Linked DNA regions of Homo sapiens. The protein of the gene in region 1 interacts with the protein of each later gene in a pairwise test. Each region holds a gene or a part of one and is shown on either strand. Other genes may lie near its edges.

The links.
Region 2: the proteins of PPP1CB (region 1) and PPP1R7 interact in binary tests that used the Homo sapiens proteins (3 or more experiments, as listed by UniProt).
Region 3: the proteins of PPP1CB (region 1) and CSRNP2 interact in binary tests that used the Homo sapiens proteins (3 or more experiments, as listed by UniProt).

Annotation. Positions count from the first base shown.
Region 1 is NC_000002.12:28,775,817-28,779,468, forward strand, and holds part of PPP1CB (serine/threonine-protein phosphatase PP1-beta catalytic subunit), read left to right. Parts: intron 1-1,034; coding exon 1,035-1,166; intron 1,167-2,992; coding exon 2,993-3,223; intron 3,224-3,652. UniProt on the Homo sapiens protein: Protein phosphatase that associates with over 200 regulatory proteins to form highly specific holoenzymes which dephosphorylate hundreds of biological targets.
Region 2 is NC_000002.12:241,163,894-241,167,545, forward strand, and holds part of PPP1R7 (protein phosphatase 1 regulatory subunit 7), read left to right. Parts: intron 1-2,443; coding exon 2,444-2,548; intron 2,549-3,151; coding exon of another isoform or gene 3,152-3,175; exon of another isoform or gene 3,176-3,281; intron 3,282-3,652. UniProt on the Homo sapiens protein: Regulatory subunit of protein phosphatase 1.
Region 3 is NC_000012.12:51,069,993-51,073,644, reverse strand, and holds part of CSRNP2 (cysteine/serine-rich nuclear protein 2), read left to right. Parts: intron 1-3,652. UniProt on the Homo sapiens protein: Binds to the consensus sequence 5'-AGAGTG-3' and has transcriptional activator activity. May play a role in apoptosis.

The DNA.
Region 1 (3,652 bases):
TCTGTCTCTCCATGCAACATTCTGTTCCCCTTCATCCCACAAGTTACTGGAAACCATATTATCTTATGGCTCAGTAATGCAAAGATGCCTCACTCCATCTAAATAGCCTTTAGAGGTTTTAATATAATGATCTATTGGGAATGTAACGATAAGTTAATTTTTAATACATAGCTGATATCTTTTTTGTATTTCTTTTGATCAGAAAGTAGAGATAGGAGTTGCTAAAATTTTGGGGACTGCTGGTAACATTCCAAGAAAGTGTGTGAAGCTAAATCACCTACTGACAATTACTATTTAATCTCCCTTTCTTCATAGCACATTGTTCTTAATGAGGCTGTTTTGACATCCTACTAGATGCGAGATAAGCAGGCCAGACCTTAAAGGGTGCGGGCTCTGAAATGTTTTTTTGTGTGTGTTTTTTTTGTTGTTGTTTTTTTTCTGTTTGTTTGTTTTTTTTTTATTTGAGACGGAGTCTCGCTCTTGTTGCCCAGGCTGGAGTGCAATGGGGCGATCTCAGCTCACTGCAACCTCTGCCCCCGGGTTCAAGCGATTCTCCTAACTCAGCCTCCCAATTAGCTGGGATTACAGGCATGCGCCACCACACCTGGCTAATTTTGTATTTTTGGAGAGATGGGGTTTCTCCATGTTGATCAAGCTGGTTTTGAACTCCCGACCTCAGGTGATCCACCCACCTCAACCTCCCAAGGTGCTGGGATTACAGGCATGAGCCACCGTGCCCGGCCCTGAAATCTTTTAAGTCTCTTTGGCTACTAGGCCCCAGGTTGGTCACAGGACAGCAAAAAACAGGACTGCATTTCATCAACAGCAGACTTGAGGAGCATCATCAGGAACCAGTAACAATGAAAATAGAAGTCAGAGATCATAGAATAACATTATTTTAAACCATGGGACCAAATAGGGTAATTTGCTGCCTGTGTGACTTTTCTGATTTTTAAAGTATGGGCATGACTCTTTTTGAAAGATTATTATGAGTAAATTTTAGAAAACTGACTGTTTTATTTATCGTTTGTCAGTACGAGGATGTCGTCCAGGAAAGATTGTGCAGATGACTGAAGCAGAAGTTCGAGGCTTATGTATCAAGTCTCGGGAGATCTTTCTCAGCCAGCCTATTCTTTTGGAATTGGAAGCACCGCTGAAAATTTGTGGTATGTAAATGGGTAAAGTTGGAAACAACTCTTTTGAATCATGTTTTTCCTCCCATGTTTAAGATCTAGAGAAAACATTTTTTGAAATTTTTGTATAAAACAGATCAGTAGGCTTTACTAAATAAAAGTGTATAAAAATTGAAACTTATAAAAATGACAAGTTACAGACAAGATGAAAATACTTGCTATATATCAACAGATAAAAGGAGTTCTATTTATAATATATAAAGAGTTCTTATAAATAAGAGAAAGGCGATACAGTATAAAAATAACATAGGAAGAGGAAGGTCTTAGAAGAAATTCAAATGGCCAGTAAACATAAGGACGTCAGCTTCTTTTTTTAGTAATCAGTGATGTGCAATTTAAAGCAAGTCTCCAACTCTAGTCAGATTATAAAAAAATACCAAAGATTGATGTTTAGTGTTGTCAAGGATGTCACGAAAAGGGCATCATAGTACACTGGTTAGAAAAAAATAGGTGTATAATTTAGAGGGTCAATATGGCGATATCTGTGGTCTTCTAACTTTGATGTTATTTAAATTTGTTTTGAAGATTATACTACTTTATACCTTGTATTCTTTTAAGTTTTACAGTGACTTTTTTACAGTCCTTTGTACAGTGCCCAGCAAATAAGAGATACTCGCTAAGTAAATGTTTGTTTTTTGTTTGTTTGGTTGGTTTTTCTTTGAGACAGAGTTTCACTCTTGTTGCCCAGGCTGGAGTACAATGGCACAATCTTGGCTCACTGCAACCTCCACCTCCCGGGCTCAAGTGGTTCTCCTGCCTCAGACTCCTGAGTAGCTGGGATTACAGGTGTGAGCCACCACGTCTAGCTGACTTTTTGTATTTTTAGTAGAGACAGGGTTTCTCCATGTTGGCCAGGCTGGTTCTGAATTCCTGACCTCAGGTGATCCACCTGTCTTGGCCTCCCAAAATGCTGGGATTATAGGCATGAGCCACCGCAGCTGGCCAATAAATGTTTGTTGAATGGATCAGTTAACTTAGAATATCACACCTTCAAGTAAGAGGTAGTAGTTCAGAATTTGGGGGAACTAATCAATCCCCTGTATAAACTTAAGCAAATGTAGTTACTTAGAGGTGATCTTAAAATTATTAGAATTAAAGTATTCTTTGAAGGTGTTCTTTAAAATGTAATATAGAAATAACTTGAAGGTAATGGAAGTTATTTGTACTACATATTTCTAAAGGTTTACTATTTGTCTCCATATTTGGTGTTAAAAAGTGACGTAAGTTAAACTACCAGATAATAAAATTGTTTTAGTTACCTATTGTTGTATAATAAATCATTCCAAAACTTTGTGGCTTACAGCAACATTAATTTACCATCTCACAATTTCTGTGGGTCAGGAATTCAGGAACAGCTTAGTGGGTCCTCTGGCTCTGGGTCTCTCACAAGGCTCCAATTAAGGCGTGATCTCGGGCTGCAGTCATCTGAAGGTTGAACTGTGAAAGGATTCAGTTCCTTATAGACTGATGGACTAAGAGCCTCAGTTCCAAATGAGCTGTTGGTCAGAGGCCTCCCTCAGTTCTTTGCTACGTGGGATGCTTCATTAGACAGCTGGTTTCATCAGCGAGCATGGAAGAAGGTGAGAGAGTGCAAGCAAGATGAAAGTCACAGTCTTTTGTAACTTAATCTTGGAAGTGACAGCCCATCTCACTTTCGCTTATTAGAAGTAAGTCACCAAATATAGCCCATACTCAAGGGTAGGGGAGGATTACACAGGATGTGAACATTGGGAATCATTTCATAGAAGCTGCTTATAACAGTAACCAATTTTTCTAAAACTGACTCTTTCTCTTTTTAGGAGATATTCATGGACAATATACAGATTTACTGAGATTATTTGAATATGGAGGTTTCCCACCAGAAGCCAACTATCTTTTCTTAGGAGATTATGTGGACAGAGGAAAGCAGTCTTTGGAAACCATTTGTTTGCTATTGGCTTATAAAATCAAATATCCAGAGAACTTCTTTCTCTTAAGAGGAAACCATGAGTGTGCTAGCATCAATCGCATTTATGGATTCTATGATGAATGTAAGTGAAAATAAAGACTTAGAAAAGTAATTCATGGAAACATTGCCTAATAATTTTCTGGTTCAGAAGAGTTGCTTTGATTCAGAGTTTTTTCAAAATAAGATCTGTCAGGCATAGGCCAGGAAGAGGAACCTGAAACTGGGAAACATGTTACTAATTAAATTGGTTCCTTGAGATCTCCTTGGTCATATTTCAGATTGACTGCAGCTTACTTGGCTGAAGAGGCTCTTTTAAAATTAGTTTATCTAGTAAACTATCCAGGTGAAACAGAAGTCACTGTAGGCAGTGGCCCTTGGTTTTCTAGTGTCCATTAAGGTTTTAACTCTCGGCATTCTTGTGGTATGACAGCTTTTATTAGTCCTGTGTCACAAGAATTATTGAGAAGTTCTGTGAAACTATTTAAAAGTCAAAGTTTAATATTATTAGAAT
Region 2 (3,652 bases), about 210 Mb from region 1:
CATGAGTCACCACTCGTGGCCTTTCTTTTTTTTTTAAGAGACAAGGTCTCACTCTGTCATCCAGGCAGGAGTGCAGTGACAAGTGCATTCATAGCTCACTATAGCCTCACACTCCTAGGCTCAAGCAATCTTCCCTCCTCAGCCTCCCAAGTAGCTGGGACTGCAGGTACACAGCACCATGCCTGGCTAATTTTTGTATTTTATGTAGAGAAGGGGTTTCCCTATGTTGCCCAGGGTGGTCTTGAACTCCTGGACTCAAGCAAACCTCCTGCCTTGGCCTCCCAAAAAATTTCTTTCTTAAGTGCCATGTTTTTGGCTTTTTCCACCCACCCACCTCCCCCTTCTGCCCCAGTAGCAGTCATAGATGGTTTTTAGCCAAAGGGGACTTCTTCAGAAGGTGGAGCTTATTCTAAATTCTAAAGTGTTTGGCTCAATGGTAAAAGCAATTCCTTCCATTGCACAGAGAATATCAACCCTGTTAGACTTCTGCATTTGGGAGTTGGTAAGCACTTGGGTGTGCCTAGGCTCCTGTTTACCTTTTGTGTTGGAAGCAAATTAGCAGAATTGGACCCTTGAAGCGAGATGGAACAGAGTGCTCTGGGGACGAGGCCCGGTATGGTTAGTTGATCCCTGATCCCTTCGACTGATACTGAGGGGCATGTGGAAACCGCTCTTAACCCTTGGTGAAGCAGAAGTTTGTCAGGCTTCTTTAAGAAAGTTCTTGGCCTGGTACAGTGGCTCATGCCTGTAACCTCAGCACTTCGGGAGATCTAGGCGGTCAGATCGCTTGAGCCCAGGAGTTCAAGACCAGCCTGGGCAACATAGTGAGAGCCCATCTCTAAAAAAATTAAAAATATAAAAAAAAGCTCTTAGGCCAGGCGTGGTGGCTCACGCCTGTAATCCCAGCCCTTTGGGAGGCCAAGGCAGGCGGTTCATTTGAGGTCAGGAGTTTGAGACCAGCCTGGCCAACATGGTGAAATCTCATCTCTACTGAAAATACAAAAATTAGCCAGGCATGGTGGCGGGCGCCTGTAATCCCAGCTACTCAAGAGGATGAGGCAGGAGAAATGCTTGAATCCAGGAGGAGGACATTGCAGTGAGCCAAGGTTGTGCCACTGCACTCCAGCCTGGGTGACAGAGCGAGAGTCCATCTCAAAAAAAAGAAAGAAAGAAATTATAATTAATTTACTTTAAAATATTCAGTAATTTTTACACTTTAAAATTATTAAATCAGGTAAACCTTCACCAAATGTATCTTTTAACAATGAGTTCTTTTTTTTGGTTTTTTTTTGAGATGGAATTTCGCTCTTATTGCCCAGGCTGGAGCACAGGGGTGCAATCTCGGCTCACTGCAACCTCAGCTTCTGGGTTCAAGCGATTCTCCTGCCTCAGTCTCCCAAGGAGCTGAGATTACAGGTGTGCACCACCACGCCCGGCTAATTTTTTGTATTTTTAGTGGAGACAGGTTTCACCATGTTGGCCAGGCTGGTCTCAAACTCCTGACCTCAGGTGATCCTCCTGCCTTGGCCTCCCAAAGTGCTGGGATTATAGGTGAGAGCCACTGCACCTGGCCTAACAATGAATTCTTTATATAAAAAACATGTAATTCCCATGCATGAATTTTAGCTCAGTACAGCAGGCTCAAAATTTTGATCCTCTTTTTCTCTCTACATGAGTCCCATTCTAGCATGTTTTTTGTTTGTTTGTTTGTTCGTTTTGAGACGGAGTCTCGCTCTGTCACCCAGGCTGGAGTGCAATGGTGCAATCTCGGCTCACTGCAAGCTCCACCTCCCAGGTTTACGCCATTCTCCTGCCTCAGCCTCCCAAGTAGCTGGGACTACAGGCACCCGCCACCACGCCCGGCTAATTTTTTTTGTATTTTTTTCGTAGAGACGGGGTTTCACCGTGTTAGCCAGGATGGTCTCGATCTCATAACCTCATGATCCTCTCGCCTCGGCCTCCCAAAGTGCTGGGATTACAGGCGTGAGCCACCGTGCCCAGCCCTTTATATATATATATTTTTTTTTGAGATGGAGTCTCGCTCTGTTGCCCAGGCTGGAGTGCAGTGGCATGATCTTGGCTCACTGCAATCTCCGCCTCCCGGGTTCACGCCGTTCTCCTGCCTCAGCCTCCCGAGTAGCTGGGACTACAGGCGCCCATCATCACACCTGGCTAATTTTTTGTATTTTTAGTAGAGATGGAGTTTCACCACGTTAGCCAGGATGGTCTCGATCTCCTGACCTCGTGATCTGCCCCACTCGGCCTCCCAAAGTGCTGGGATTACAGGCATGAGCCACCGCGCCCGGCCCCATTCTAGCATGTTTTAAGTGAAATTCTCTGTTCTTAGAATTCTTCAAGATAACACAAAACCTCGTTTCCTAAAAACCGTTTCATTTCATACCTTCTGTACTGTTCTGACAGCTGTGTGCTCTCCCTCTTGCAGAGCAACCGGCTGACCAAGATCGAGGGTCTGCAGAACCTGGTGAACCTGCGGGAGCTGTACCTTAGCCACAATGGCATCGAGGTCATCGAGGGCCTGGAGAACAATGTAAGACACCCACTGTCTGTCTGGGGCTGTGTGGGCGGTGGGCACCAGGCGGGCAGGCACCTGGCCAGCCAGCACACACTGGCCTCTCGGGCCGGTGTCAGGAAGATGCCCTGCCTCTGGAGGTTTATCAGAAAGACCTTCCCATCCTAAAAACTAAGGGACCCTTTCCTCATACTGAAAAGTGCAGGAGCTGTGTGTGCCTGTTGGCCCTCTGCCCTGAGTGTGCCTTGAAGGGCTGACGCTTTATGTGGGATTTCAGCACAGGCTTCCCTAGGCTTCCTCAATGGGGCAGCATCCATTGCACACCCACTGTGCACTGCAGGCATTTTGCAAGATTTGAAAAAAACAAACCCAACCTGCTCGTAAAGGGCCCTGTATGAGGGTGACTGGCATCCCTTTAGGCCACTGACCTGTCCATGGGTCCACTGGCCTCAGCCCCTACTTCCCAGCCCACAGAGAGCACAGGACCAGCTCTCAGTCCCAGCCCCTTCCTCTTCTTACAGTATGAGCAGCTTCCTCCTCCCCCATTCCTCCCTGCCTGCTTTCCACACCTGTCCTCACCTGTTCATGCTCCTCCCTCCCTCCCCGGCCCTTCTCACTCAGGTGCAGGACAGCCTCACGTACTGAGGGGAAGTGTGCTCACAGAGCCCCCACCCTCCTCAGCTGCCTCCAGCTCACCCTGCTCTGCCCCAGTGCGGTGTTCAAGACAAATAAAAGACTTTTTCTCATTCAATTTTACTTGTTTTTTTCTGTTTTGTTAAATTGCCAGCAAATACAACCAGATTGGTCTATAAACATAGTGTTTCAATCTCATTAAAGGCCTTTGTGCCTCAACCCCAGGGCCTAGTTGGCAGCAGTAAATTTCACCAACACCTGCATAAAATTTTGGAAAAATTCAAATTTGCCTGTGGAAAGTTTGGTCACCTTCCTTTGACTTTGCATTGAAATTAAAAGTTTATAAAACTAGCATGCAAACCAAGTGTTCACCTGTGTAGTTTAGAGTGGTAAGTCGAGACGTGCCTGCAGTGGAATGGCGCTGAGGACTGTGTGGCAGGGGCTGGGGTTGGGGCCGGGTGGGGTGCGCAGCAGGGAGCCCTGGTGCCC
Region 3 (3,652 bases), on another chromosome or scaffold:
CAAGCGATTTCTTGTGCCTCAGCCTCCCGAGTAGTTGGGATTACAGGTGTGCATCCGTCTTGTTTTTGTATTTTTAGTAGAGACAGGGTTTTGCCATGTTGCCCAGGCTGGTCTCGAACTCCTGGTCTCAAGTGATCTACCTGCCTCGGCCTCCCAAAGTGCTGAGACTACAGGTGTGAGCCACTGCACCCAGCTGATTTTTTTTTTTATTTGACTGTTGTCCTTGGGGTATAGAGATTTCAACTCTTTCTAATGAAAAATCTCAGATTTGAAATCAAATCTCAGTCCAAGACTCCCGTCTTTGCATCTGGCAGGGGAGTCTACCAGATATAGCAAAATGGCTTCCCTAGAATTTCCCCCTCCCAAACCCCCACTGCCTCCCTCAATTTTATGTATGTATGTATGTATGTATGTATGTTTTCTTTTGAGACAGGGTCTCTCTCTGTCACCCAGGCTGGAGTGCAGTGGCTCAATCACAGCTCATTGCAGCCTTGAACTCCTGGCCTCAAGCCATCTGCCAATCTCAGCCTCCCAAGTATCTGGGAACCACAGGCTCATGCCACCATGCCTGGCTAGTATTTTTTTTAATAGTAGTGGGATCTTGCAACGTTGCCCAGGTTGGTCTCAATTCCTGGGCTCAAGTGGTCCTTCCCTCTTGACCTCCCAAAGTGCTGGGATTACAGGCATGAGCCACCATGCCCAACACCCCCGCCCCCAATTTATTTTTAAGTTTAAAATATGAATACGTGAAGGCGTTCAGGTCTGTCACCCTGGAACTCAAGGAAGCACAATTTTCAATTTCTGGTCAAATAATTGTCCCTTGGCCGGATGCACAGAACAGGTTTTGGATATTTCACAGTCTCTGAAAGGATCCTGCTGTTTCTATAATCCCCATCACCCTTACGTGATAATCTTGTAGATACAAACAGCATTATCAAATAGTTATTTAGATTTGTATAATACTGTGCCTGCCACCTGATACAGCACCACCTCTTCTTCGAGAGAGAGAGGCTGGGAAAAGACCCACCTTACATGGCTCTTCATAGCCACTCTTTTTTTTTTTTTTTTTTTTTTTTTTTTTTGAGACGGAGCCTAGCTCTGTTGCCCAGGCTGGAGTGCAGTGGTGCGATCTCGGCTCACTGCAAGCTCCACCTCCCGGGTTCACACCATTCTCCTGCCTCAGCCTCCTGAATAGCTGGGACTACAGGTGCCCAACACCACACCCGGCTATTTTTTTTTTTGTATTTTTAATAGAGACGGGGTTTCACCATGTTAGCCAGGATGGGTTCGGTCTCCTGACCTCGTGATCTGCCCACCTCAGCCTCACAAAGTGCTGGGATTATAGGCGTGAGCCACCGCACTTGGCCACCCATTTTTCATCTTAGTACTGTTTGGTATTCCCACAGCCATAGTTGCTACTACCTCTCAAAAATTTCTCCCAGAGATCCTGATTCCAAATTTGAAGAACACCAGTTTAAGCCTGGCCAGGTTTCTTTGAAGCCCAAAGCATGCTGACCCATATTAAAACAGGTAGCTCCATTATTTCCAGAGTCATGAGAGAGACACGTTAGAATGTGGTGGAGTTGGAGACTGGTGGCAGAGGATGTAGGCTAACCAGAGCATCTCATTCCTTTCTTTCTCTGAGAGCTGTATGTCTACTTCCCTCAGACTATTCCTAAAGCCCTACACCTGTTTTTCTCACTCTAGAATGACATTCAGGCTTCCCTTTCCTCTGTCTGAGGAATTCCATCACTGACCCTGTCACCTTCCAGCTGCCGTAGCAACAGCTGGGCAAATAAACACTGTTCTCATCAATTGCAGTGAAGGCATTCCTTCCTTTCCCTAGAAGAAAACTCCACTCTCCTAAATCTGGCAGAGGAATGATCTGTCAAAACAGTATACCATCCTGTTCTGTGTTCTCCACTTACAGGAATTCTAGGGACGAAGCCAGGCAAACCCAAGACAGATACAGGAGCTCTACTTGTTAGCAGGATGTTTAGTGAGCACCAGCAGTGATGACATCTAATACAGCACTTTGTTTTTTTAAAGATGGGGTCTCATTTTGTTGCCCAGGCTAGTCTCAAACTCCTGGGCTCAAGTGATCCTCCCACCTCAGCCTCCCAAGTAGTTGGGACTACAGGTGTGGGCCACTGCACCAGGCTTATCTTTATATGTCAAGAGGAATCCCTTGCTTTACCTTACCTAGTTTATTCTTTGCTTAGATTTTTTTTTTCTCTTGAAACAGGGTCTCACTCTGTCATCCAGGCTGGAGCACAGAGGCAATCCTCAAGCGATCCTCCTGCCTTAGCCTCCCAAATAGCTGGGACTGCAGCTGCACCCACCACCATGCTTGGTTAATTTTTGTAGGTTTTTTTTTTTTTTTTTGATGCAGGGTCTCACTCCGTTGCCCAGGCTGGAGTGCAGTGGCGCAATCTCGGTTAACTGCAACCTCCGCCTCCCAGGTTCAAGCGATTCTTGTGCCTCAGCCTCCCTCAACTGAGATTATAGGCATGTACCACCATGCTGGGCTAATTTTTTTATTTTTAGTAGAGACGAAGTTTTGCCACGTTGGCCAGGCTAGTCTCGAAGTCCTGGCCTCAAGTGATCCACCCGCCTCGGCCTCCCAAAGTGCTGGGATTACAGGAGTGAGCCACCATGTCCGGCCAGTTTTTGTAGAGATGGGGTCTTGTTCTGTTGCCCAAGCTGGTCTCGAACTCCTGGTCTTAAGCGATTCTTCCACCTTAGTCTCTCAGAGGTGCTGGGATAACAGTCATGCGCCACTGCACCAGGCCTGTTTTTTAGCTCTCTATAAGGGAGGCAGTTGGTTTCAAAAAATGTACATTCTGCATCTCTCATGTACCATCTAATGTTTGTCTTCCTTTGGGGTTGTTCCAGCAGCTGCTTGGTGTTCCGCAACTTTAGTTAACTATAATTTTTCTAATATTTTTATTTCATTTTTTGTATTTTGGCCTGTTATCCATATGGAACTCATTATCATGAATAGTATACATTGGGAATCTTTTTTCCCCCAGAAAATATCCACTTGTTCCAATACGATTTAATAACTAGAAGACTCTTTTCTCACTGATTTGAAATGCCACTTCTATCTCGATATTTAAATTCTCACATCTATATGAGTGTCCTCGTGTTACATCTCTAATCCCTTGCCTATGAGAGGACAGCAGGAGGGGGTATGCTTAGGGGGAGGTCAACCCTGGAGATGTAGACAGGAGCAATCCTGAGATAAACAGAAAGGCCCTTTGTAGTTGGCCTGCCTAGTACCGAAATCACTGACTAGGAAACCTCCAGAAGCCCCACTTTACTTCTCTTCATTTCTCTACCACCTCCCCCACAAACAAGAAAACCAGGTGTGTAGCTGATTACCCAAGCCCATTGCATCACATCTCTCCCAGGAGTTGTTCCTTTAGCAGCTCTACTCTGGTTGTCTGATGAAATCAACCAAAGGCTCCAGTCACGTGGCTTTCATCCTGCTAGCAGCTTCCAGAGCCCCAGGGATTATGAGGCCTCATTTTCTTGAGTTCTCTAGTGAGTTTTCAGAACTCTTTCAGCCACGGCTTGTCTTCAATCTGTCCTTCCACCAAGACTCCCTTTCTTGGCTCTCTATCCATCTCAGCCCAGAAAACCCAGATTT